Linked DNA regions of Homo sapiens. The protein of the gene in region 2 interacts with the protein of the main gene of each other region in a pairwise test. Each region holds a gene or a part of one and is shown on either strand. Other genes may lie near its edges. The genes, in order: GAB1, STAP1, MET and GRIPAP1.

Region 1 (7,028 bases), about 76 Mb from region 2:
TAGTGTGAACCAAGTTTAACTTTTGAAACTACGTTTAGCTTGCTCTAAGCTAGGCTTTAATCAGTTTTTTAAATATTACTTATTTTCTTTCTATCCTAAAAGGTTGTTTAACTTTTTAAGCTATGTCCTCTTGAAAGCAAATATTTAGGCTTCCGTAGATGTTCAACAGTACGAGTGGTATGTCTGGTGAATGTCTGACCGTTGATTTTGTTGTCTAATACTTTCAGAATCTCTTTGGCAGTAACAGTCTTGATGGAGGAAGCAGCCCTATGATCAAGCCCAAAGGAGACAAACAGGTGGAATACTTAGATCTCGACTTAGATTCTGGGAAATCCACACCACCACGTAAGGTGAGTGACATGTGACATGTCTCTTCTTTGTATACAGTTAGTTCACACTTCAAACCTGAAGAATTATTTCCTTTGGGATAATTTTATTAAGTTATGTTTAATATAAATTTAGTCTGGTCTGCTACTTGATGCTATCTCATAAAACAAAAATAACATAGTTATGGAGACTGATTATTTTTTCCTTTCTGATGGTTAGAAATTTTATACTTTCTACTTTTTTAGTGGTTACCATTGAAATAGTTATTTAACAAATTCTTTTTTTTTTTTTTTTTTTTTTTTTTTGAGACAGAGTCTTGCTCTGTTGCCCAGGCTGGAGTGCAGTAGTGTGATCTTGGCTCACTGCAACCTCCGCTTCCCAGGTCCAAATGATTCTCCTGCCTCAGCCTCCCAAATAGCTGGGATTACAGATGCGCGCCACCACTCCTGGCTAATTTTTGTATTTTTAGTAGAGACACGGTTTCACCATGTTGGCCAGAATGGTCTTGAACTCCTGACCTCAAGTGATCCACCCACCTCAGCCCTCCAAAAGTGCTGGGATTACAGGCAGGAGCCACTGCATCTGGCTGTTATTTAATGAATTCTAAAGTTAACCAGTCTAGTGTCTTTACTCTCCTTAAAATGCTCAAATTCTGTGCTATCTTTGTCCAAAATTTTAATGTTGTCTTTTTGTTAAGCCCACTAATTAGACAGTATTATTACTGCTCTTATTATATAACAATGTTTATTTACATTTTCCTACATGTTGACCAGCTTCTTTGTCATTCCTTCCTATTTCTCAGACCTTCCTTCTGCAATAATTTTCCCTCCACCTGAAATATACCCTTTAGAAGTGCCTTTAGTGGAGGTCATTGGTAGTAATTTTTTTCAGTTTTTGTATAACTTAAATGTCTTTATTTTGCCTTCACTCTTGGAAACACAGTTTTCTTGAGTTTACAGTTCTTGATCAACAATAATTTTCTCTCAGCCCATGGAAGATACTATCCCACTACTGTCTTGCTTCTATTCCTATGGAAAAATTGCTGTCAGTCTAATTGTAATTCCCTTGTAGATAATGTCTTTTCTGACTGGATGAGTTTAAGGTCATTTCTGTATCTTTGGTATTCTACAGGTTCACTACAATACGTCTAGACATAGATTCCTTTTTATTTATCTTGCTTAGAAGTGCTGCCTTCTTTTTGGATTCATATTTTTTATCAATTCTGGGAAAGTCTCAGTCACTATTCAAATATTGCTTTTCCATTTCTAAAATGAAATTCTGTTTGGGTCTTTATCAAATATGTCTGGCCAATTTACTGGCTCCTTTTTCAATATCTGAAGTCCTTGGAGGTCTGAATCTGTGTATATTGTTTCTCCTATCTCACACTCTCTACAGTTTGTTTCTTTGTGTGTTTTATATATTTTTATTGCAACCTCATTTTGTTGAACATATCTTCTGAGGACCTAAATTTCTTCTATAAACTATTTGTATTTGCTTCTGCTAGGAACCAGGAGGTGCTACCATCCTAGGACCACATCAGTTCCCTTCAGGGGTCCCTAGCTTGATGAGATATTCTCAGTTTCAGCATCACCTCCAATGCAGGGCCTCCTGATTGCATTTTTGAGATTGACATTCATCCTAAAGCCAACACCACGTTTACCATTTAGAAGCTCACCACTCCCTCTACTTCTCTTATACCTTAGACATTTCACTTTCTAGTGAGCGCAGCAGTGCATTGATAATTTTATTTAAATATCTATATCTTGTTGAATTTTAGGAATGAAAAGGCATCAGCTTATGTAGTTTGTCATTCTTGAAGTATAACTTTTCCAAAAACATTTCTTGTTAGCTCTCAAAGTAAACATTGATTCATGTTCTCAGAGGTTGAGAGACAGTCAAGCTTAAGTTGACAGGAGAATCAGGTTGTCTATGTTAAGATGAAACAGGCATCTGCTGTCCCTATTTTTTATGAATTTCATCTGTCATGGAAGCATTAGTTTGAATTCTTTTTTTTTTTTTTTTTTTTTTTTTGGACGGAGTCTTGCTCTGTTGCCCAGGCTGCAGTGCAGTGGCACGATCTTGGCTCACTGCAACCTCTGCCACCCGGGTTCAAGCCATTCTCCTGCCTCAGCCTCCCAAGTAGCTGGGATTACAGGCGCGTGCCACCATGTCAGGCTAATTTTTGTATTTTTAGTAGAGATGGGATTTCAGCATCTTGGCCAGGCTGGTCTTGAACTCCTGACCTCGTGATCCACCCATCTTGGCTTCCCAAAGTGCTGGGATTATAGGCGTGAGCCACTGTGCCCAGCTTTGAATTCTTAAATATAATAATTTTAAATTTAAGGCAAAAATAGTATATAGTTAGGAGAGAGACATTTTTAAGTTGAGGTAGTTGATGTTATTTTTTGTGTATGACCCAGAAAAATTTTAAGAGTATTCATGGCCGGGCATGGTGGCTCACGCCTGTAATCCCAGCACTTTGGGAGGCCAAGGCGGATGGATCTTGAGGTGAGGAGTTTGAGACCAGCCTGACCAATATGCTGAAACCACATCTCTACTAAAAATACAAAATTAGCCAGGCGTGGTGGCACATGCCTGTAATCCCAGCTACTCAGGAGGCTGAGACAGGAGAATTGCTTGAACCCAGGAGGCGGAGGTTGCAGTGAGCTGAGATCGCACCACTGCACTCCATCCTGGGCAACAAGAGCAAAACTCCTTCTCAAAAAAAAAAAGTATTCACAGTGGATGTGTTTTGTGTTTTAAGACTGAGTTGTACTCAGGAACACTCCTTTATATGTTGGACTTTTTGTTTTTTCTTTGTGTTTTAGCAAAAGAGCAGTGGCTCAGGCAGCAGTGTAGCAGATGAGAGAGTGGATTATGTTGTTGTTGACCAACAGAAGACCTTGGCTCTAAAGAGTACCCGGGAAGCCTGGACAGATGGGAGACAGTCCACAGAATCAGAAACGCCAGCGAAGAGTGTGAAATGAAAATATTGCCTTGCCATTTCTGAACAAAAGAAAACTGAATTGTAAAGATAAATCCCTTTTGAAGAATGACTTGACACTTCCACTCTAGGTAGATCCTCAAATGAGTAGAGTTGAAGTCAAAGGACCTTTCTGACATAATCAAGCAATTTAGACTTAAGTGGTGCTTTGTGGTATCTGAACAATTCATAACATGTAAATAATGTGGGAAAATAGTATTGTTTAGCTCCCAGAGAAACATTTGTTCCACAGTTAACACACTCGTAGTATTACTGTATTTATGCACTTTTTCATCTAAAACATTGTTCTGGGTTTTCCCAATGTACCTTACCATAATTCCTTTGGGAGTTCTTGTTTTTTGTCACACTACTTTATATAACAATACTAAGTCAACTAAGCTACTTTTAGATTTGGAAATTGCTGTTTACAGTCTAACAACATTAAAATGAGAGGTAGATTCACAAGTTAGCTTTCTACCTGAAGCTTCAGGTGATAACCATTAGCTTATACTTGGACTCATCATTTGTTGCCTTCCAAAATGCTGAGGATAATGTATGTACTGGTGTCAGGACCTAGTTCTCTGGTTAATGTACATTTAGTTTTTAATGGTGGAACTTTGTTATATTTTGTTAATTACAGTGTTTTTGGTTCATTGAGTGAAGATTCTGCCGGGTGGGATCTTGCACCTTTGAAAGACTGAATAATTACACTACCAAGTAAGCCTGCAAATCATTGATGGCATGCAGTGATGATGTGCTCTTACACTTGTTAACATGTATTAAGTGTTATTTGCAAAAGGTAGATTATGTAACCAATCAGGTACGTACCAGGCAGTGATGTGCTAATACACTGATCAGGTTTAGACAATGAGCTTTGGTTGTGTTCTTGTTAGTCCTAATATTGGTTTTCAGTTTGGAATTAATAAAGCAGTTGACATTCACTGTTAGTTACAGCAACATACTGTGATTTTTAATTAGATAGTAATTCAGATTTATTACTCTATGAAATTCTGTCTTTTGACACCATAGTGCCCTTTCTATGATTTTTTTTACTTAATATTCTTCTTGGCCTTATATTTAATTCCCTATGCAATTAATATTTTATATCTGCATTTTTTTAAAAAAAATAGATGTTATATAAGTGATTCTCGTATGTAGCACCTGTTGCTTTTCCACTGAAAGAATTACGGATTTTGTACTGTGATTTATATTCACTGCCCCAATTCAAGAAATATTGGAGCCTTGCTACAATGTGAAATGTTATAGTCATGGACTCCTTCCAACCAGATTTCTGAAAACACCAGAGGGATGGTATAATTCTGTCTCACCTATAACATGGTCCTGTGACATAGATATTAAGACCACAAGTTGTAGTGAGGCTACAATTATATTCGTCTGTCTTGGCTTTGCAACATAATTTAGAAAGCACGTATAGTTGTTTTTTAACCAAGTTACATACAATCTCATGTACTGATTTGAGACTTATAACAATTTTTGGAGGGGGCATAGAGAAAGGAGTGCCCACAGTTGAGGCATGACCCCCTCCATTCAGACCTCTAACTGTTGCCTGAGTACACAGATGTGCCCTGATTTCTGGCCCATTGGCCATAGTACTGTGCCTAATCAATGTAATAGGTTTATTTTCCCAATCCTCAAACTAAAAATGTTCATAACAAGATGAATTGTAGACTAGTAACATTTGATGCTTTTAAATATTTGCTTCTTTTTAAACAAAAACTAAAACCCAGAAGTGAATTTTTAGGTGGATTTTTAAATAAAAAAGATTGATTGAGTTTGGTGTGCAAGCTGTTTTATAATGAAACAACAAAATGAAATCTAAAATCCTGAAATGTGCCTAAACTATCAAAACACACGATACAGCTAATGTGTAAAGATGCTAAATTCTGTTACTTGGAGGATGAATATATTTAAGATTTAAAACACAATAATAAATACATGATTAATTCAAAAATAAAAATCTTTACAGCTGCCTATCAAGGGTCTAAAGCACTTAATGAATGTTTTTAGTCTAACTTATCATTAACTTTTTACAAGTCACCATATTTGAAGATCTGTAGCACTCTGATTTTCAGAAAATTTTTCATTCTGAATAATTTAAAAATGGTGATGTATTAGAAAGGCAGTTTGCTTTAGAAAACTAAATCACATTGAACATTGTATTAGAGAATTAAATTAAAAGTTTCTTACAGAGCAGTATTTTCCAAACATTTTTAGCACTAGAATCTTTTTAGATGAAATTTTATGTATAACCCCAATACATAAAGCCTGAAAACTCAATTTTATCAATATAAATGTATTTTGGGTTCACATTTATGCTTATTCATTTTGGCTCATTACTAAGCATAATAAGATTCTGAGTTATTTCTGAATAACACAAATGTGGAGTTATACATAGTTGATGAAACCAGCAGCCAATTTATAGCTATGCCCTGTTTTATTTGTATACTATCAAGAAAATTTTGATTCACACAAATGTAAGCAAAAATAATAGGTTTTAAACATACATCTCAGGAAATTCTTTAATTAGAGATAGCTAAAGTTATTCAAGGTCTATACAAAAATAAGTTATCCTGGTAGTGGAAGTTAATACATAAGCAGTCTCCAGTGTGGTAAAGTAGGGTATGTAACACATCAGAATGTGCGTTTTTATTAGGTTTTAAAATATGCACGTATAAAAACTAAATTTGAATCAAACCCTTTTAACTCACCTCCAAGAAGCTAGACTTTGGCCAGGAATGGGCTAAAAACCACTGGTTAACGATGTGACAGTTATGATCTTGGAGATTGGAAATCTTTCTTCCACATTAGAGTTCTTTACCTTAATTCCTTATTCTGAAAAATTGTAAGATTTTATGAAGGTTTGAATACTGAAGCACAGTTCTGCTTTCAAAAATTAAAATTCAAACTTGAAAAAGCTGTTTAACCCATGGAAGATATCATTTAGTAAGATGTAAAAGATTTTTTAAATCTACACTTCAGTTTATACATCTTTATCATTATCAATACTATATAAGTTACTGTGAGCATTTTAGAGAATTCCATAAAGGTACTATGAGTGTGTCTGTATGTGTGTGTATATATAGCATTGTATTTAATCATAGACTAAATTTAATTTGATATAGAAATACTACTTTACTTGTACATTAAGGTCATAATTTCTGCTGGACTCTTTTATATTTAATTAATGGGGATTATAGTCTTCCTTCATAAATGCATTTAAACCTGAAATTGAACACCAGTGTTTTTCTTTTTCTACTTATGGGAAGTTGTCTGCTTCCCCCTTTAGAGAAAACAGTATTTTTATATTTTGTTAAAATATTAACTACTTTATGCCTACACACTATGCTGTAGATACTGATCATAATTCTTGGGTGTTCACAAACACTCCTAGTGCCTCTTTTTTGGCCCGTTGAAAGTGTTGGTATTACTACTTTCACTACAGAGCCTTTGGCCCTCTAATAATGCTGAGGTGGGCTGATCCTTCCCATTTCTGTCTTCGGGTCATTCTGGTAGGTCTTCTCCTCCACTGTCAAGTAAGCAATCAGGTCCGTGACAGGGATTGGACATATGAACAAATTAAGTGGATACACACAGTGAGAAAGATACATGCATTCTATGGTAACAACTACTGTCAATAACATCTGATGTTACATGCACATTTATATATATATAATTTTAAAAACTGAACTATGAGAAG
Region 2 (7,028 bases):
TATTATTGACAGATCAAGAAAATGTGAGAAATTGATAATTGAACACCATCAAAGCTGAACTTTAAAATCCAAATCTTATTGATGTGGTGAATATTTAATTATTAATACATTCATATTACTCTAGATTCTACAGAAATATGACTTTTGAAGTTTAAAATATTTAAATAACCTAGTTAAACTCCCATTTCATTCAATTAAGTTTATTTAAATAAATATGAAGAGTGACTATATTACAAAAGAATGGCAAGTAAGTTTTAAAAATAAAATCCTTTCACATCTAAAGATTTACTTTCATATGCAGCTTTTCCCAAAAGTGTGTTTTAAAAAAATTCCTGTTATTTTAATAAACATGTTAATCATTCCTTCCTTTATGGTTTGATAAGCTGATGTTTTACAACTTATTGAACCATCATGATATTGGCGATTAATATAAGAAAGTTATATAAAGGGTTTTCTCTTTTATTGTGCATGTGAAGATACTTTGTCTTATGGTATTTTGTGTCTCTTCAATATTAACATATCCTTTATGTTTTTTAACCAGTAAAATGTTTGTCGACTCTTCAGAATTTATATGCTTATTTTCTCAAATAATGACGACTCTATAACTCAATTTTGCTTTTAATTCCCTGGCTACCAGGAAGCTCAAGATTAAATTCATTTTGAACTACAATCACCATTTTTTTCTTATGCTCTTGGTAGAACTCTTTTCTTTCTTTGTCTTCATGCCTAATAAGATAATATATGAGTTAGCTTCTCCCATGTAACAAGTCACCCTATAACTTAGTGGACTAAAATAAGCAAATGATTTCTATTTCTCACCATTCTATGGTTGGCTGACGGCCTTTCTGATCTGGGCTTGCTTGGCTATGGCTGAATGGTCTAAGGTGGCCTCACTTACTTGTCTAGGGTCTTAGCTGGGAAGGCAGGAATGACTGGGAAGGGAGGGACAACTGGAGTCTCACTCTATCCATTCTTTTATCCAGTCAGCTAGCCTAGACTTGACACATGCTGGCAGAAGGATTACCAGGAACAAGAGAGAGCAAAACCCAATGGGCAAGCTTATTCTAAGACTTTGCTTGTGTCACATTTACCAACACATGTCACATAACCCAATCCAGATTCAAAGGCTAGAAAATTATTGTTTGCTGTAAGTTCAATTTTGAAACATAAAATAAAGATTAGAGAAATAGATTCAGCCTCTTTATAGGATGAGCAGAAAAGTCATATTTCAAAGAGAGGTACATACAGTAAGACTTGAACAAATTGGTAGTGTGACTGCAGCAATCAACCTCAGGGGCACATTGGAATTTGGGACAAGGTATCTTTGTTCAAGCCCTGCTGTGTTTTCACTCTATCCTCCCCCCAGTTGAGAACTGGTTATAACATGCAATGAACCTGCTGATGCCTCTTGAACCAAGGAACAAATTACCATAGAAAAGAACAATTCAAAAGGGCATATTATTGAAGGATCAGCCAATAAATGGTCCTCAAAGAAGTAGTTATAAAACTAGGCAAAGAGATTCTCTTTCTTGTCTGAAATCCAGATGCCCAATATATACCTGATACGTCTCAGTCAAGCAGTTTAATGACAAGAAAACACATCTTAATTTCAACCCCATCCAAAGTCTTTTCTTTCCTTCTTTTTATATAGGATGTAAAGTGTTATTGCTATAACAGTATCCCTTTACCTGTCTTTCTACCACTTTCTTATACTTTCTAATCTATTAATCTACTCTATTTTTATTTTATTTTATTTTTTGATGGAAGTCTCACTCACTCTGTGGCCCAGGCTAGAGTGCAGTGACGTGATCTTGGCTCACTGCAACCTGCTCCCCTCTGGGTTCAAGAAATTCTCCTGCCTCAGCCTCCCCAGTAGCTAGGACTACAGGCATGTTCCATCATTCCCAGCTAATTTTTATATTTTTAGTAGAGACGGAGTTTCACCATGTTGGGCAGGCTGGTCTCTAACACCTGACATCAAGTGATCTGCCCATTTCAACCTCCCAAAGTGCGGGGATTACAGGCATGAGCTACCGTGTCCAACCTACTTTCGAATCTATTCTGCTCAGTACTGCCAGGGTGAATTATTTCCTTTGCAGAGAGTAGGACTGAGTATCTAATAGGTGTGTTTGGGAGGCAGCAAGCTCAGCTCAGCCCCTTCCTGTCCTCTCTCAGCTCAGTCTACCAGGAGAGAGTGAGTGTACTGCTCTGTTCCCTGCCATGTGGCAAAGGGCCTCCAAGAGGTTCAGCTTGTGGCTCTTAATCTGAGTCAGTGACTTGATGTAGCTCAAGGCTACCCAAATCTGGAGTAAAATATAAGCACAGTTTTGGCCTTAAATCTAAACTGCACATTGATAATTTGTCAATAATAAAAGTAACTAACTGATCTTCATTTGTGTGATTTCTGTGTCTGGCTGGTTTCAAACTTGGGAGAAGAAAAATTCTAATAAAAGAGTATATAAAAAATGTAAAAAAGAGGGAAGAGGGCCAGGCGCGGTGGCTCATGCCTGTCGTCGCAGTACTTTGGGAGGCCGAGGCGGGAAGATCACCTGAGGTCAGGAGTTCGAGGCCAGTCTGGCCAACGTGGTGAAACCCTGTATCTACTAAAAATATGAAAATTAGCCGGAGTAGTGGCGGGCGCCTGTAATCCCAGCTACTTGGGAGGCTGAGACAGGAGAATCTCTTGAACCCAGGAAGCGAAGGTTGCAGTGAGCAGAGATCGCGCCACTGCACTCTAGACTGGGCGACAGAGAAAGACTCTGTCTCGTAAAAAAAAAAAAAAAAAAAAAAAAAAAAAAGCAGTTGGGTTGAGGGGGGAAGAGAAGTGGGTATGACTGCCCATGGAGCTTCTTTTTGAAATTATGAAAATGTTGTGGAATTAGATACTGGTGATGGTTGTATAAGTTTGTGAATATATCAAAAGACACTGAATAATAATAATTATTATTGTGTCTCCCATATGAGAGTTTACTTTAAGGAACCAAAAATAGGAGTACCCAAAACTAGGAGTACCCCATAAACACAACACCACCTCCTGCTATTGCTCCATAGAGTTGTTGAATAATTGAATGGACTAATAATGTATGTGTGTAAAGCACCTAAGACCTGGGACATAGCAAGTATTTCATAAATGTCAGGCACTTTAAAAAAAGAAAAGAAAAGAAAAAGAAGAGCATTGCCTCAACACTCACATTATTGGCAAGAACTTTGCATTTTTTATTAGCCACATAATACTTCTTCCATGTGGTGATTTGTATGTGTGGGTGTGATAGCAGTATCTAAAAATTTCTAAAATAGATCTCCTTCAATGGTAATATGTATGAGAAGGAGGAAATATTTTCTAAACCAGAATAATGAAACCCATTGTCATTCCTATGTAAAATCACCCTTTCATGTTTTCTTAAATAAAGAGGTTTAAAAATCCATTTAGAAATCTGGCTTGAGAAGTTGCTAATATATACTAGCACTGCGATCAGATAGCCATTCTGTAAAAAACCATATGGGAGTGACTAGTTTTTTTCACTCTGTTAAAAAATACTTGTACTTTCTCAATCTGACCTATAATTACATAACAAAATAATTAAAATTTATCTTGCAAGTTGTTTTGTTTCTTTGCTTATCCGACCAACTCTTTTTAAGGCTTCCCCACCCTGCATTAATGGTAAGCCTCTGCAATGAAAGGAGTAAATCAAGGCTCTCCTGTTTTTTGGAGCTGGGAAGCAGGTGAGGAACAGTGCAGGAGGAGATGGGAATGTAGAGAAATGCATATTGTTCTGAGAACTTTATCATCTGTGTAGTTTGTTTGTTTGTTTGTTTTGAGATGGAGTCTCCTGTCACCCAGGGTGGAATGCAGTGGTGTGATTTTGATCTCTGCTCACTGAAACCTCTGCCTCCCAGGTTGAAGCCATTCTCCCACCTCAGCCTCCCAAGTAGCTGGGATTACAGGCACATGCCACCATGCCTGGCTAATTTTTGTATTTTTAGTAGAGGCAGGGTTTCACCATGTTGGCCAGGCTGGTCTCGAACTCCTGACCTCAAGTGATCCACCCGCCTCAGGCTCCCAAAGTGTCATTTGTGCAATTTTACTAAAGTATGGCTTCTAAGATCTAGTCCAACTCCAGGATTGTATGATTCCTGGAGGAAAAAAATACAAGAGAAAACCCTGAAGTCAAAGCCTACCACTCTGTTCATCGTCCTAATCAGCCTCATAACTACAGTATTACCCTGCCATAAGGTATAAAAACTAGTATTACTGATAGCCAGTAAAGGTTTATTGAATTCCCTCTGTATGTACATGCAGACCTCCATTGCACTATCGAGAAAAATTGTAGAGGTGTTCAGTCTCAAAAGAATGATATGAATTGGGTAAAGTTAAATAGGGAAAAATGGGAGTTTTACAGGTAAGCAAACGTATATACTTGTGGAAAGGATTAAGGATTTATTAAATGGGGGGAAAAGCAAGTATAAAGGCACTAAGTTGAAAGCAAAGGCAGCCCTGGAGGAAAAGTAAGGTTACAAATAGCATTAGACCATGTGAACTGCAACCACAGCTGCAAACCTAAGGACAGACCAAACTTATATTCAGTATGCAGAGACTTACAGGTCACAATCTTGATTTCATTTCGATAAGATGTAATAAATACACATAGAATCTGAGTCATTTATAAATATCAATCTCAATAAACAACATCTAGGTACCTATTCATATCTAGAGAAATACTTAAAAATTAAAAAAATTAATTTGGAAGGACATATCTTTGGAATGAAGCACAAATTTCTTTTTTTTTTTTTTTAACAATCGTTTGTGTGAAATCATTGATGTAAGAAAAGAGGCTGAAATAAGACTTCTGAATTTATCACTAGCTTAACTAGGAAACCTACAATCAAATGGTAGAATTTGAGTTTGAGAAGCAGCATGGTCAAGTGCATCACAATCAAATCCAAGCTAGCCTCCTTAATGGAAGAGGAACCTTGAATAACCTCTGTGGCCAGAACTCACTCATTTGTTTATTTGGAGTTGTTGTTTTAGAGAGACAGGGTCTCGCTCTGTTGCTCAGGCTGGGGTGCAGTGATGCAATCATAGCTCACTGCAGCCTCGAACTCCTGGGTTCAAGTGATCCTCCCACTTCAGCCTCCCGAGTACCTGAGAATACAGGGTGTGCCACCACGCCTGGCTAATTTTTTGATTTTGTAGAAATGGGGTTTCGCTATATTGCCTAGGCTGATCTCCAACTCCTGGCCTCAAGCAATCCTCCTGCCTTGGCCTCCATAAGTGCTGGGATTACAGGGATGAGCCAGCATGCCTCACCTACTCACTCATTTGTGAAGTGAATAAAATAATTTCTACCCAGAAGAGTTACTGTAAGGATCACAGTGACAGAACACTAAGAGCCTAGAATGGGATCCATTATATGTTATACCTCAAAAGGTTGCATTCATTATTATATAGTCCACTTAGTCATTGGAGCAACCTATTCAGCTATGCAAGAGAGTAATTATTCTTTTTAGAAAGGAGAGAACAGATTTAAAAATGTGAAGGAATCGCCCAAATTCTAGAATTGGACTGATACTTTTATCTCTTGACTTCCCAGTGCTCTTTTCTCATTAATACAACTAGCAAAAATGAATTAACTAGCAAAAATGAATTACAATGCAAGCTCCAGTTAAGTTTCTCTTCCTCTGTCCCCAATAAAAAGCTCTCATTCTTTGTTTTTGTGCGCAAGTAAAGTACATTTACCTAAGGAAGAATGTTGTATAGTGGTCTCCAAAATGGGATGCATAAATTCCAAAGGTGTGCAAGATGATCCATTGGGAGAGAAAATTTTAGAATATTTAATTATATTTTATTTCATATTTCTTAATTCATTTTTTATATATCAAATAATTTACATGGATTAATAGTACGGGAATATATATATTTATAATTTCCAAATGAATTAATATTCTTTTTTTGTTGTTTTTGAGATGGAGTCTCCCTCTGTTGCCCAGGTTGGAGTGCAATGGCGCAATCTCCGCTCCCTGCAAGCTCCGCCTCCTGGGTTCACGCCATTCTCCTGCTTCAGCCTCCTGAGTAGTTGGGACTACAGGCGCCCACCACCTCGCCCGGCTAATTTTTTTTTTTTTTTTTTTTTAGTAGAGACAGGGTTTCACCTTGTTAGCCAGGATGGTCTCAATCTTCTGACCTCGTGATCCGCCCGCCTCGGCCTCCCAAAGTGCTGGGATTACAGGCGTGAGCCACCACGCCCGGCTGAATTAATATTCTTATATTAGGGATCTGTGCTCAAAATGTTTTCCTGAAAGGAGTGTGTTATTTTAAAATTTGGAGATTACTGCCATAGAGAACTGTGTGTGAGCACAACTTAGACAGCCCTAAAAAATTTCCTTTTTTTTTGAGACGGAGTTTCGCTCTGTCACCCAGGCTGGAGTGCAGTGGCACGATCTTGACTCACTGCAACCTCCGCCTCCCAGATTCAAGCGATTCTCCTGCCTCAGCCTTCCGAATAGCTGGGACCGGGCCCGGCCCACACACACTGTTTTTTTTTTTTACTTTAGCACATCACAGATTGAAGAAATTATGAGACGTTGCCCAAACTATCTCTTATTTTCTTTCTTTTTCTTTTCTTTCTTTCTCTCTTTCTTTCTTTTTTTTTTTTTTTTTTTTTTTGACAGAGTCTCGCTCTATTGCCAGGCTGGAGTGCAGTGGCGCGATCTCGGATCACTGCAACCTCTGACTCCCAGGTTCAAGTGATTCTCCTGCCTCAGCCTCCCGAGTAGCTGGGACCACAGGTGCGTGCCACCATGCCCTGCTAATTTTTGTATTTTTAGTAGAGACGGGGTTTCGCCATGTTGAACAGGTTGGTCTCCATTTCCTGACCTCGTGATCCGCCCACCTGGGCCTCCCAGAGTGCTGGGATTACATGCATGAGCCACCGCTCCCGGCCCACCCACACTCTCTCTTATTTTCAAACGGTCCCAGAAAAAATGAGAAATTTTCCCATTTGTAAGAACTGCGATGCCAATGGTATTCC
Region 3 (7,028 bases), on a different chromosome or scaffold from region 2:
ATATTTCATAAGCTTAAGAAATGCATTTGTATTTTATTCACCGAATTACACAAAATAAATATTTCACCTCTGAAAAAAATACAAAGAAAACCGAACTTAACTATTGTTGCTAGACTGATAGAATTAACGGAAACAAGGCAGATTGAACTGGGTCCAATGAGATATCAATTCAAAGAGAGTCTGGCATAAAGAAAAGCTGTGTGTAAAGCAGGCAGGACAAAAACATATCTAGAGAATGGAAGAAAAAAGGTAATTCCACTTCTGGGCACTAAGGTTAGTATAGAATTGATATGTACATAATGTAAGTGCATGTATACTACAATGCCACATTAAACTATTTTGCTATACTCTGTTTAAATGTAATAGAACAGGATAAGATACTTCTTGGAATGAACTAGCATTGATAAGTCAAACTACACTCAGAACCTGAATATAGTTTTCTCTCCTGAATTGGAAAGAAGCCTTCAAAAGCAACATAACAGCATCAAAGCCAGAGATAAAACTGCAATTCCTCTTGACTATTCTACAGCAAAATCATCCTTGTATTCATTGTTTTCTTATACCCATCAGAAGCTTCTACTTACCTAATAAAAGATTTGGTTGGATGAATTTCATAGACAATGGGATCTTCACGGTAACTGAAGATGCTTGTCTCTCGGTTGGCTAAGTCAATTTTCAATTTAACAGCAAACTCAGTTGAAATGGTTTGGGCTGGGGTATAACATTCAAGAATACTGTTTGACACACTGAACAAAAAAAATTAAGGAAGTGAATTTTAGCTATTAGAGATACACATATTTTAGAATTATATCCACAAATCAAAAGGATATAACTCAATGGTTCCTAAGTGGGAATTTCCTGAGTGGAAGCCTTTTCTAGTGTAGGCTGTTTAATCTGACTGGATCTCAAACTTACCTTTGTTGTGGACAAGCTATCCTTGACTGGAAAACATTTGAGATTTGAAAAAAAAACCTTTAAAGTACTTTTGGTACTTGATTAAACTGAGCTCTTCCAACTCTAAGAAGCAGAAACATAACTGTCTTCCAGACCCAATTTTCCCCATTTCTTCCTTCCCCAGAGTGACTTAGTCTAATTACAAATCTTGATGAAAATGTTTATTTTAAATTATTATCAATGACCAGACTCTCACAGCTCATAGTATAGCTAAGATCCTAAGCTATAACAATAAAGAGGGTGGATGGGAAGACAAAACTGAAAAGTAGGATTGCTAAAAAACAAGAGAAAGGAAGAAAAATCAGCAAAAGGAGTAGATGAATTTTGGAAGGAGGAAGTTTTGTCAGTAGGAGAGTAAACAAATAAACATCTTGATTTTTCTTCTCCACACACACACACAAAACAATCTGCTTAATTTTTAAGGTACAGATATTAATTCAAATTGACAGATGCAACAAAAAATAAATTTACAACACCTTTTTAAAGTACATGTTTTTCCACCAATTGAAATGTGTCTAGAATTCCCACTGTTTAGGTAATTTCCAGTTAAAGTAAGTAAAGTGCCACCAGCCATAGGACCGTATTTCGGCGAAATACTTGTTATTACAGGATCCTGGAGGGGAGATAAAAACAAAACAAAGTAACTTGTTCATCTTATAATTTAAATAGATTAAGTAAAAATCAAACATGATAGGATAGAATCTTCCTTACCACATAGGAGAATGTACTGTATTGTGTTGTCCCGTGGCCATTTGAAATAATTATGGACATATTGAAATGCTTATTCATGGCAGGACCAACTGTGCATTTCAATCTGGAAAAAAAACCCAAAGTTTAATACATGACAAATCCAAGGAATTTTCTGGTTAGGTTGTTTTATAGGAAGTGACATTAACTCTAAATGGTGAGCTGACTGCTTTGAATAGCAAGCAGAGTTTCAAGATAAGCATTAAGGCCAAAAATTATATAATCCTATTTCTATACTATGATAAACTTAACTTTTATTTTTATGTAAAAAGAGACAGGATCTTGCTCTGTCACCCAGGCTGGAGGGCAGTGGCATAGTCATAGCTCACTGCAGCCTTGAACTCCTGGGCTCAAGGGATCCTCTGGACTCAGGAGTTGGAACTAGAGGTGCATGCCACGGCATCTGGTTAATTAAAAAAAAATTTTTTTTTTTTTTTGGTAGAGATGGAGTCTCACTACGTTGCCCAGGCTGGTCTTGAATTCCTGGGCTCAGGTGATCCTCCTGCCTTGGTCTGCCAAAGTGCTGGGATCACAGGCGTAAGCCACTGCACCCTGCTTATACTAAACTTTACATTAATGGTACTATAGCACTTATACAGACAAACAGGAAATATCAGACCTTATCCATAAAGACCTCACCAGTTGAATAGTGCATAATAATCTAAGTTTGGATAATATTAATATTTGGGGATAATCTTTGGTCCACTTCAGATGCATATGAAACAATGGGCTAACTACAAATAGGCCAATCTCTTCATTAAAGTATGTCAACAGGTACATTTCTGTGGTTATACTTGTACATGCTTATTTAAATTACTTAAATGATAATGAAATTGTGATGGCTTTCCATAGAATTATTTCTGAATGAATAATCATATAGTTCTGAGAAAATTTAAATACAATTTGATTTATTAAATAACTTTTTAAAGGAGAGAATGAATTATGCTTTACTTTTACAGGTCCTGATTTATATGCAATGATTAAGAGTTTTGGAGATTTTACAAGGGAGATTTCTAGAAAAAATTTGTTTTGCCATTCAGCTAACAAATATTACCTTCATTAGTGTTTTGGTCTCAGTAAAATGGATAGATTCGGACCTTTGTGTAACCCTGAAATGAATTCTATTAGATATAAAATAACCACCTGATAGAATGGGTTCAATCATAAAGATTCAACCATAAAACTTTAAATATTTGAGTGTTGTTATTATGTGATAATGAATAATTTCTGGATTCTCTGATGATTATGGAATTCAAAGCTTGTAGAAGGGTACATGTAGAATACAGTAGAACTAGCACGGGTCTTGGATCAGAAGATGATCAGAGCTGAGCTGAAGGCTTGTTCAGCTCTTACTCTCTGGATTACCTCTGTGAAGCCACACTTCATCTCTCTGAACTTCAGGTACCTCTTTTATATTATAGGAATGATACTGCTCCCTCCCAGGACCGTGGGGATGGTTCAGTGAGATACAGCCCATATATTGCAGTGCCAGTAAATATAAGCTGAATATAAATTTTAACTCATCTAAAAAAGTCTCAAACACGTGATTCAGCTGCCTCACTACATTTCTGAGGTTTAGAAAGTGAATTTAAAAGAGAGGATCCATGCTGAGCTGTTTACTGATTTCTGTAGAAAAAGCCTTTGGAGACTCTACATTTGAAGACTCCAAGGATGAAGTGATCCCAACTAGTGCTACTCTTGCAAATCTACTCAGACAACACCTGAAGACTTGTCGCATAAATGGTTGAGAAACTCCCATTTCTGGCCTCTTCTCTTCACCTAGGCCATGTCACCTTTCTCTCTCTTCAAATCCAATGAGTAAATGGGATTACAAGAACAAAACAGAACAGACCCACAAGGCATGTGACAGGCCAAGACCCTTTTTAATTCAAGAGATGAGCTTCTTGAGCAATTTTAAAAGAAATATTCATTCAAAAACAAAACCTATTTTCCAAGCACACCCCAGCAAAGCATTTTAAGATCCTTACGTATTCATCGTGCTCTCACTTAAAGTCAAGGTGCAGCTCTCATTTCCAAGGAGAACTCTAGTTTTCTTTAAATCAAATTTATTATTCCTCCGAAATCCAAAGTCCCAGCCACATATGGTCAGCCTTGTCCCTCCTTCAAGGGGTGCACTATTTGGGAAAACCTACAAGGACAACATAGAACTTTTAAAAAAACCCAATATATTATAATTTTTCACATATATGGAAAACGAACAAACAAAATGTATATCCTTAAATAGTCTGAAATTCTTTCATTTTCCCACAATTTAGTAAAAATTTAATTTTCACTAAAGGGAAAAGGGTCACAAATTTCAGAGCATCTGGAACAAACATTAAAACTACATGACATGTTAATGAAACAAGTTGTTTTCAGGAGATCCAAAGATGGGACAAAGAGCAGATGCAGCTTGGTAGGAATAAAGGGGCTTTTCGAGTCCTTCCGTTCTTTCTTTCTTTTCTTTCTTTCTTTCTTTCTTTCTTTCTTTCTTTCTTTCTTTCTTTCTTTCTTTCTTTCCTTTCTCTGCTTCCTTCCTTCTCTTTCTTTCTCTTTCTTTCTTTCTTTCTTTCTTTCTTTCTTTCTTTCTTTCTTTCTTTCTTTCTTTCTCTCTTTCTCTCTCTCTCTCTTTCTTTCTTTTTCTTTCCCTCCCTTCCTTTCTTCCTTCTTTCTTTTCTTTTCTTTTTCAGACAGAGTCTGGCTCTGTTGTTCAGGCTGGAGTGCAGTGGCGTGATCATGGCTCACTGCAGCCTCAACCTCTTGAGCTCAAGCAATCCTCCCACATTAGCCTCCTGAGTAGCTGGGATCACAGGCGTGGGCCACCATGCTTGGCTATTTTTTTTTTTTCTAGAGACAGGGTCTCACTACGTTGCCCAGCTGGTCTCAAACTCCTGGGCTCAAGTGATCCTCCTGCCTTGGCCTCCCAAAGTGCTAGGATTACAAGCATGAGCCATTGGACCTGGCCCTTTTTGGGCCATTCTGAAGTGAATTCATCTTCTAGGGCTCTTTAGGGTAGGAGTAGAAACACGTTGGGCCCAGACTTTTACTTGCTCATAACTCTGATTGTAACTCTTCATCAGCCTTCGGACTGAGCTCTTATCAAACTCCTTCATGTGCTCTATAAGCCAAGGTCCAGCCATTATACGCCTTGCTCTGTGCACTGGCTGCGTGCACTACATTCTGGTTGCTATGGTATTCCCCACCCAGAGACAAAAGTTGCACAGTAAAAATACCTCATTTGGTATCCAGTGTTTGCCCAGTTGCATTCAGCAGCTAGCATAATATGAAACATATAGATGGTTTTGGAACACATATCTGCCAATAATTCATTCATTCATTCATTCATTCATTATTTACTTATTTACTTTTAGAGATGGGGGTCTCACTCTTGCCCAGTCTGCAGTGCAGTGGCATAGTCCTAGCTCACTGCAGCCTCAAACTCCTGGGCTCAAGCAATCCTCCCGCCTCAGCCTCTCTAGTAGACAGGACTACAGGTGTGCGCCACCTCACCCAGCTAATTTTTAAATTTCTGTAGAGACGGGGTCTTGTTATGCTGCCCAGGTTTCATTAATTATTTCTTAATAAAGCACCTCCTATGCACCAGGCACTAACAAATGAAAAGTGAATCTACTTCTTTTTACCTATTAGTTCACATTTATTAATGACTGAAGATTTTTCCTTGTTCTTTAAATATGGTCACTATTTGATGTATACCAGGCTGGTTAGTTGACACACTCAGCCTTTTAAAAATTATGTAATATTTAATACATGTGTTATGTTGTTTCTTTTAGAAATAGATAAAAACGGAACCAGAGAGGGCCCAAAATCAGTATTGTAACAATTTTTCCTAATTATCTTCATTGGTATTGTTTTATATCTCATTTTTAGGATTAAATTTTTCCCCCTGATGGTTGATGTTAAGCAAATAACAGACTCATTTTGTTATTGCAGACTCATTTCTGGTATGTTATCAATGGATTTATTGATAAACCTTGGTCAGTCATGATTTAAGACCGCATTAGGCACCTATAAAGTGTGTAAGATAATTGCTCTCAGGCTAAAACTATTAAAACAAAACACATTTCCAAGTTAAAAATAAGCTTCTTCTCAGCAGCTTTGTGACAATTGAGAAAGGAAATGCTCTTTTGGGGGTGGGGACATATTGTAAATTGTGCTGTAAAGTACAATGGTGGGAAAACTAAGATAGAGGCAACTCAAGAACCAGTAAAGGTATTTGCTAAAGCTCAGCTTGTGAACATCTAAAAGTGATTCTTTTACAATTAAGAAGGGCTTTTAGCCAAATTCAAACTTGCAAACATTTCCATCCTTCCTAAGTAAATAATTGCAAACCAAAGTCTTAATGTACCCTCGTTATCAAACCCCTTTAAAGTTTTAGCTTAAAGCTTTTATGATAGCCATTTTACCCATAAAAATCCATTACACTGTTGTGCCTTTCCTGAAAATTTACCTCATCCATGTCTAGTCAAATGAGAACTACTAGAAAAATAAATCTGTTTATTATTATTATGGTAGAAATCCAGTAGGAGAGAACAAGACATCCAACCCTCCCAGGACTCTCTTCAGCCTGAGGCAGTCACACAGCTGCTGCCGGCTCTTCTAATGAGGAGGCTTCCCCACTGAAAACGCTGCCCAAGGCTGATGTTGGCCTGATCCCACTGCCTACATCCCGTCTTTCTATGTAAAAACTGAAGTCTGTCACTCTACACACATCATTACCATCACTTTCTATAAAAGGCAAACGGATTGGGTGATGATTTGAGAAAAGACGCAGAGAGCTGCGCAACTGGGGCACTGGCAATAGGAAGAGATATTATAAGCCCTCTGCTAGACCCTCAGGATCCAAGAGGCTCGCTCTGCTTAGCTTTTCTCTCTGGGCTGGGCATTTTCCCCTTAGCTTATGGGGTAACCTTTACCCTTCTAGGGAAAAAGGAAGGAAGCAGTTGTGAACTACACACCCTTGGATAGACCCAACAATGGCTGGCAAACTCTGAGTTATCCTGAAGGGCAGAGAAACTCTGTGGGCAGGAAATGAGCGTCCGGCATAAAGCCACAGAGGCTGGGTCTCCTACCTGTCTGGATAGGGGAGATACAGCCACAAAAGTAGCCCTTGTCTTTTCACAGGTGAAAGATCACATCACTGATGGGCCCATTCCAACAGTATTTTAAATGATCATGCTTTCAAAACCCATTAGGATAAAACATGAGAAAACTAAAAAACAAAAACAAAACAGAACAAAAAAACTCCAAAAGGGGTCTCCTTTCCTCTTTAGTAGAACTCACAAATATATTTACTGGTGGCAGTATAC
Region 4 (7,028 bases), on a different chromosome or scaffold from region 2:
CTCAGGCGATCTGCCCACCTTGGCCTCCCAAAGTGCTAGGATTACAGGTGTGAAACACCGTGCCTGGCCTAATTATTTTATTTTTAGTACACACAAGTTCCTGCTATGTTGCCTAGGCTGGTCTTAAACTCCTAGCCTCAAGAGATCCTTCTGCCTCAGCCTCCCAGAGTGCTGGAATCAAGGTATGAGCCACTGTGCCCAGGCTCTCACAAATATTTTAAGCCCTATCAACCACTAAGATTCTGTTTACTATTAAATTAGCCCAAGCTGGTTTCACAAATCCCATTCTCAATCCTTGAAGCCCCACCCATAGCCCTTGAAGGCCATGCCCACCATATGCTACCACTGACTTACAGCTGAATCCCTCCTAGAGCCTCCTAATTCCTACTCACATTCTACTAAGTCTCCCTCCTGGTCATGGAACCAGCATCCATCACCACAGAAGTCCCAGCTGCTCTCCAAAGTTCCACACACCACATGCTCCCACACTCTATCAAGCTTTCTTTCAGCTTTCATCCCAGACCCCACTTACAATCTGGGCTCAGAATCTTCCCAACACTCCATTCACTTTTTCACTTAGCAAATATCTCCTTTTTTTTTTTGAGATGGAGTCTCGCTCTGTCGCCCAGGCTGGAGTGCAGTGGTGTGATCTCGGCTCACTGCAAGCTCCACCTCCCAGGTTCACACCATTCTCCTGCCTCAGCCTCCAGAGTAGCTGGGACTACAGGCGCCCGCCACCGTGCCCGGCCAATTTTCTGTATTTCTAGTAGAGACGGGGTTTCACCATGTTAGCCAGGATGGTCTTGATCTGCTGACCTCGCAATCCGCCCGCCTCAGCCTCCCAAAGTGCTGGGATTACAGGCGTGAGCCACCGCGCCCGGCCGCAAATATCTCCTTTTTGACATTCAAGCTGCTAATCTGTAACATCTGCTAGGTACCAGACACTGAACTAATGCAGAATGATATCACCTTTTATCTCTACTACAATCTTCTGGGTGACAGACATCACTACATGCACTGTGTAGATGATAAGGCTTTGGCTCAGAGAGGTGAAATGGCTTGTCCAAAGCCACACAGGGCATGGGCCAACCCTATTTCTGAAGCCCTTCTCCTTCCCCTGAGAGGATGACGGCCTTCCTTGCCCTACTCAAGCCCCAATGTCTCCGCATCCCCAGGAGGGCCTCTATGCACCTGCCACGTTCTTCTGCAAGGCTGTGTTTTCAGCCTGTAGCCTCAGCAGCTCCCCATCCACGAGGGGCCCAGCTTGGGCAACCCCTGCTCCTGCAGCCCCCTCCTTCAGTTGCTGGTTCTCTTGCTCCAGCTGTTCCATCTGGCTGCAGAGCTGAACAGAGGAAGAGAAGGGGCAGAGAAGCAGAGAATCAGAGCAGTATTTGCTGAAACCTACATAGCATTTGTCCATGTACTTTACAATTCACTTAATTCCCATAATGACCCTATGATATAGGTGCCCTCCCACTTTACAAATAAGGACATTGAGGCACAGAGATGTTAAACAAGTTCAAATTCACACATCTTTTAAGTGGCAGAGTCAGAGAATACCAAGAGCATACCAAGTATGAGGACACCAAAAACCATTTTCCTCTTCCTACTCCCAACCTCAGAGATGCAATCCAAGACCTCAGGCTCCTCTGGAAGTTGTTAGTGCTACAGACAGCCTCACTGCAACCCCTCTTCTGTGGAGGGCTGGATCCTGGGCCCAGAGATAGCTCCCTCTCATCCTAAGCACCACAAAGAGCTCGCAGGGCATTTCCAGGGCCAACACTGATGACAGCTCCTGCATTGCCAGCCGTTAGTCTTGGAGAGGTATACAATGCCAATACAACTAAGCCAGCCCCCTGCCCAACTCCTGGCTGAAGTACACTTCTCAAAGCAGTCCTGAGAAAATTCCTTGTCCCCATTTTCAGATGAGAATATCGAGGCCTACAGAGAATTTTTATTTTATTGCCTGCAATATTTTCTTTCTTTTTTTTTTTTTTTTTTTTTTGAGATGGAGTCTCGCTCTGTCACCCAGCCTGGAGTACAGTGGCACGATTTCAGCCCACTGCAACCTCCGCCACCCGGGTTCAAGTGATTCTCCTGCCTCAGCCTCCTGAGTAGCTGGGACTACAGGCATGCGCCACCGTGCCCGGCTAATTTTTGTATTCTTATTAGAGACGGGGTTTCGCCATGTTGGCCAGGCTGGTCTTGAACTCCTGACCTCAGGTGATCCACCTGCCTCGGCCTCCCAAAGTGCTGGGATTACAGGCATGAGCCACCGCACCCGGCCTGCTTGCAATATTTTCTACCCAGAACACCAATCCTCTCATCCAGTTCTTCACCTAACTGGCTTCTTTGCATCCCTCAGTGCTCTGCTCAGATGTTGCCTTTAAAGTAGTATCCCTCAACACAGAAAATTCCAGTACTCTCTGTCACAGCACTGTTCATTTCTTTCTTACCTAGTACTAATCAAAATTTTCTTTTGTAACAAGCACAGATTCTGAAACCAGACTGCTTGAATGTGAATTTCTGCTCTGCCATTTACTAGCTGTGTGACAAATTACTTAATCTCCCTGGAACTCAGTTTTCCTCATCTGTCAGATAGGGATACTAATATCTCATAGGCTTATTTCAAAGATTAAATGAGTGAATAATGTAGAGTACTTCAAACAGGACTTGGCACACAGTAAGCACCATATAAATGTCAGCTATCACTACTAGTATTATTTGTTTACTGTTATCATCTTTCTCCTCATCCCACCCCCAGAATGTAAGCTACCCAAGAGTGGAGATCATTCTGTGCTGCTTACAACTGTATTTCCAGAACATAGAGCATGTGGTGGGTACTCAGTAACTATTTGTCGAAGGAACAATTAAGCTGAAATGTCTTGATGAATAAGGGGTGGTGGCAGGTTTAACGTAGCTCTCTCTGAGAGCACTTCCAGTTCCTGGGAGGAGTTGGAGGAGGAAGGGGACTATGTAGGAAGTCTCTACGACTAGCCCAGTGCTGGCCCAGGGCAGATGCAGGGAAACAAGCTGGATTTATGGAAGAATGTCTGCCCCTGCCTCACTCTGCAAGAATCATGATACCATGGAGGCTGGAGGCAGGAAGCAGTGAGGAGTCAGTCAGTGAAGCCAGCAGTTATGTGAATACCAGGGGCTCTGAACTAGGAGCAGGACTGGGGCACTGGAATGTATTAAGTAAAGGAGTGATGTCATAAGATCTGCAGGTCAGAACAGCCTCTGTGGTGTGAACTAAGTAGAAGAAACTAGAAGTGAAGAGACCAGGGAGGCGGCTGTAGAAACAGCAGATGATAAGTGGTAGAGGCTAAGGCAAAGCAGGGCCACAGGGTGGATATAAAACTTTTTTTTTTTAAATTGAGACAGAGTCTTGCTCTGTCGCCCAGGCTGGAGTGCAGTGGTGCAATCTTGGCTCACTACAACCTCCGCCTCCCGGGTTCAAGCGATTCTCCTGCCTCAGCCTCCCGAGTAGCTGGGACTACAGGCACGTGCCACCACACCCGGCTAATTTTTTGTATTTTTAGTAGAGACGGGGTTTTACCACGTTAGCCAGGATGGTCTCCATCTCCTGACCTCATGATCTGCCTGCCTTGGCCTCCCAAAGTGCTGGGATTACAGGCCTGAGCCACCACGCCCGGCCATAAAACTTTTAAAAAGTCAAATATTTTAGAGGGAAGATGAGTTAATAGAAGGATAATATTATAACTAATGCTTCCATAGCTGATACTATGTGCAAGGCTCTGTTTTAAGTGATTTACGTACATTTATTCATTTAATCCTCACAAAAGCCCTGTGAAGAGGCAGGTACTGTTATTATCATGACTTCCATTTTAAACATTTGGGAACCAAGAACCAGGCAAGTTAAGTAACTTCCTCAAGGTTACAGTTAGTAAAAGGTAGAGCCAAGATTTTAATCTAGGCCTTCTGGTTCCAGAGTCCCTGCTGGTACCTACTACTTGCTCAACTGCCTCTCCTGGTATTGTACCTGCTTAAAGGTTATTTTCGGTTTTGTTTTTTTAAGGTCATAGGCACTATATTCTCAGATGGAGCCTTAGAAATACCATTTTTGGGCCGGGCGCGGTGGCTCACGCCTTTAATCCCAACACTTTGGGAGGCCAAGACGGGTGGATCACCTGAAGTCGGGAGTTCAGGACCAGCCTGACCAACATGGTCATTTTCTCTACTAAATGTCCTCTCCCACCCATGTCATTTTCTCTCATCTCTACTAAAAATACAAAGTTAGCCAGGCATGGTGGCATATGCCTGTACTTCCAGCTACTTGGGAGGCTGAGGCAGGAGAATCGCTTGAACCCAGGAGGCAGAGGTTGCAGTGAGCTGAGATCATGCCATTGCACTCCAGCCTGGACAATGAGAGTGAAACTCCATCTCAAAAAAATTTGCTGCCATGAGACTTTTTTCCTTAAAACACACTAAAAACATAGACAATTATCAACTGTGGATACAGAAGATAGATGAGGGAACAAAAGACAATGTCTCCAACTGCCCAGTAGATTTAGAAACAGACAGGACACTAAAATCAATGGGGAGATAGAATTAGTAGCTCCAGGATGAATTATCTGGAAGAGGTAGAACCCCAGGCTCATGTCAGATGAAGAGAAGAAAGAGAAAAGGGAAGAAGCTCGAACACTTTTCCATCCTATATTAAGCATAAGAACTCTGCCTAAAACCCCCCAACACCTTGGAGCACCACAGCATCAACCCCACATTATACACATGGAGACTTGAAGCTCAAATAAAAGGAGTGACTTGGCCAGGAACCAGGTGACCTCAGGGCTCAAAGCCTTCTAATCCCAGCAGAGTGAGCGGCCCCATCTGTCAAATTACTGCCCCCCAGCAGCAATCCAGGACCTGTTTCAGCACCACGGACAGTGCTCCAGGGCCAGACCCTGTCCAATCACTCTCTGCCGCTGTTAGGTTTCAGCCCAGATGACCCCTACCCCTCATTTCCCCTTTGACTATCCCAGGCACCAGCACCTTGCTGAACTCGGCCATTAGTGTGCTGTTCTGCAAACGGAAGTCCTCCTCCTGGCTGTGCAGCTTTGCCTGCAGCATCTCATTTTCACTCAGCAATACCTCGACTTCCTGCAGTGGCAGACAAGGGCCAGGACTCCAGCAAGGGCAAAAAGGATAGGGAGGTAGGGCAAAGAAACAGAGAGAGGGAGAAAATGACATGGGTGGGAGAGGACATAGGGTACAGAGAATGAGGTGATATAGGAGAAAGAGACATGGGGAGGGATAAAATGAGAGACAGGGAAAGGAAGATAAAGACATGGGAAGGTAGAGAGAAGGGAATACAGGGAGGAAGAGAGCGGAGGAAAAGACAGGAAGATAATGATTGGGGAGAGAGGAAGTAGAGATGGGGAAAGGGGGAGAGATAGAAAAGGGGAGAGGGATTGGGAGGGAGAGAGTGAAAAAGACGGAGAGAAGAACAAACAGAAATCAACAGGGAGAGAACAGAACAGGGAGAAGAGGAGGGGTCAGGAAAAGAAATGAGTTAGGAAGAGAGAGGAATGGGGTGGAAGAAACAAGGAGTTAGAGAGAGAAAGCAGAAAAAAGAGAAATCACCGAGACAGGAACAGGAGGGGGAGAGACAAAGAGAAGATTGGGAAGAGAAATGAGTCAGAGAGACAGGAACAGGAAAACAGACAGAGACAGAAAGAGACTCAGAGAAAAGAATGGAAAGAGAGAGAAGGAAAGAGACACAGAGTTAGGACAAATACAGGGAAACAAGGACAGATACAGCAACACATGGCAGTGAGGTAGTAGCAGATGTAAAGGCACACAAAGAAAGAAAGGCCAGTACAAGGAAATATCAGCATACAGAAATAGCCCACCAAGACATCTCCCAGTCACACTCACCCACAAGGGATCCCCTTACCTGAGCTTTCTTGCTCTTGCTCAGTGCCTAAAGTGGGGGTGGGTGGGAAGAGAGCTAAAGTGAACAGAGATGGACTGCCTTACTAGGATATGGAGACAATTGTGCCAAGCGTTTTGGGAGGACAAGGATGACAGGGGTTGCAGGATGGGAGCATCTTCAACCACAGAACATGTGTGACAATTTGGAGCCCAAAGGAATGATGGAATGAGTGTGTGAGTGAGTGAATGAATGCAAGTCTTGCCCTGGGGCCCCAGCACACATAAATCATCCTTTCTTGGAAGCTCTTGAGGCTGGTGGGGGGACAGGGGAGGTAGGGAGATGCCCTGGTATTTAACCATTTATGGGCTGGATCTCCAGACTCAGAAACTGTGGCTTCATTGCTACATCTGTCCATACATGTCTCTGTGGGTCCCTCCCACGCAGTGTGGAAACTGTCGCTCCCCTACTGGGCAGCCAAGAGCATTGCCAGCTTAGGGGAATCAGCATCCTACCAAAGAGAAGTGCAGCTTCCTGACTGTCGGATTTTCTGCATACTGTATTCGTTCATCCAACAAATATTTATTGAGCACATATTATGTATTAACATTGTGCTAGGTATGGCTAGATATGGGGACAGAGCAGTGACAAAGGAGCACCTCGAATGTCTTGAGGGGCCACAATAGGTTATATCCTATCTCATCTTTAGAGGATCTGAGAGGTGGGTTTGCTCTCATTTTCCCAACTGGACCAGGACAGAGATGGGAAGTAGGAGCACAAGGCAGGAGTGTGAGTAGAGGATGGGAGGCAGATTCGAGGTAGATTTACTGATAGATTTGAATATTTAATTAAAAGTCAGTGAATGAGAATGAGTAACTGAAATTAGAAATGAATTAAAAGTAAATTAAAATTAATCACTAAATTAAGCAGGATTAGGTAAAATTAGCAACTAAAGAGAATTCCATTGAGAATCCTTTAAATGACTACGTGAAAACAGCATGCAACATTAGGTCTGGTTCACTGTAGGTGCTCACTGGAGGGATGAATGAGTCAGATAGGTAGAAGCAAGGGTGGATGGGTAGGTGGATGGGTGGGTGGAGGGAGGTACCTTCTGAGCTTTGCTGAACTCCTTATC

The links.
Region 1: the proteins of STAP1 (region 2) and GAB1 interact in binary tests that used the Homo sapiens proteins (3 or more experiments, as listed by UniProt).
Region 3: the proteins of STAP1 (region 2) and MET interact in binary tests that used the Homo sapiens proteins (3 or more experiments, as listed by UniProt).
Region 4: the proteins of STAP1 (region 2) and GRIPAP1 interact in binary tests that used the Homo sapiens proteins (3 or more experiments, as listed by UniProt).

The regions. Positions count from the first base shown.
Region 1 is NC_000004.12:143,465,876-143,472,903, forward strand, and holds part of GAB1 (GRB2-associated-binding protein 1), read left to right. Parts: intron 1-227; coding exon 228-350; intron 351-3,155; coding exon 3,156-3,314; 3' UTR 3,315-7,028. UniProt on the Homo sapiens protein: Adapter protein that plays a role in intracellular signaling cascades triggered by activated receptor-type kinases. Plays a role in FGFR1 signaling. Probably involved in signaling by the epidermal growth factor receptor (EGFR) and the insulin receptor (INSR).
Region 2 is NC_000004.12:67,561,705-67,568,732, reverse strand, and holds part of STAP1 (signal-transducing adaptor protein 1), read right to left. Parts: intron 1-7,028. UniProt on the Homo sapiens protein: In BCR signaling, appears to function as a docking protein acting downstream of TEC and participates in a positive feedback loop by increasing the activity of TEC.
Region 3 is NC_000007.14:116,752,177-116,759,204, reverse strand, and holds part of MET (hepatocyte growth factor receptor isoform b preproprotein), read right to left. Parts: intron 3,851-7,028; coding exon 3,690-3,850; intron 1,769-3,689; coding exon 1,666-1,768; intron 1,568-1,665; coding exon 1,431-1,567; intron 747-1,430; coding exon 585-746; intron 1-584. UniProt on the Homo sapiens protein: Receptor tyrosine kinase that transduces signals from the extracellular matrix into the cytoplasm by binding to hepatocyte growth factor/HGF ligand. Regulates many physiological processes including proliferation, scattering, morphogenesis and survival.
Region 4 is NC_000023.11:48,992,237-48,999,264, forward strand, and holds part of GRIPAP1 (GRIP1-associated protein 1), read right to left. Parts: coding exon 7,002-7,028; intron 5,945-7,001; coding exon 5,918-5,944; intron 5,122-5,917; coding exon 5,014-5,121; intron 1,343-5,013; coding exon 1,192-1,342; intron 1-1,191. UniProt on the Homo sapiens protein: Regulates the endosomal recycling back to the neuronal plasma membrane, possibly by connecting early and late recycling endosomal domains and promoting segregation of recycling endosomes from early endosomal membranes.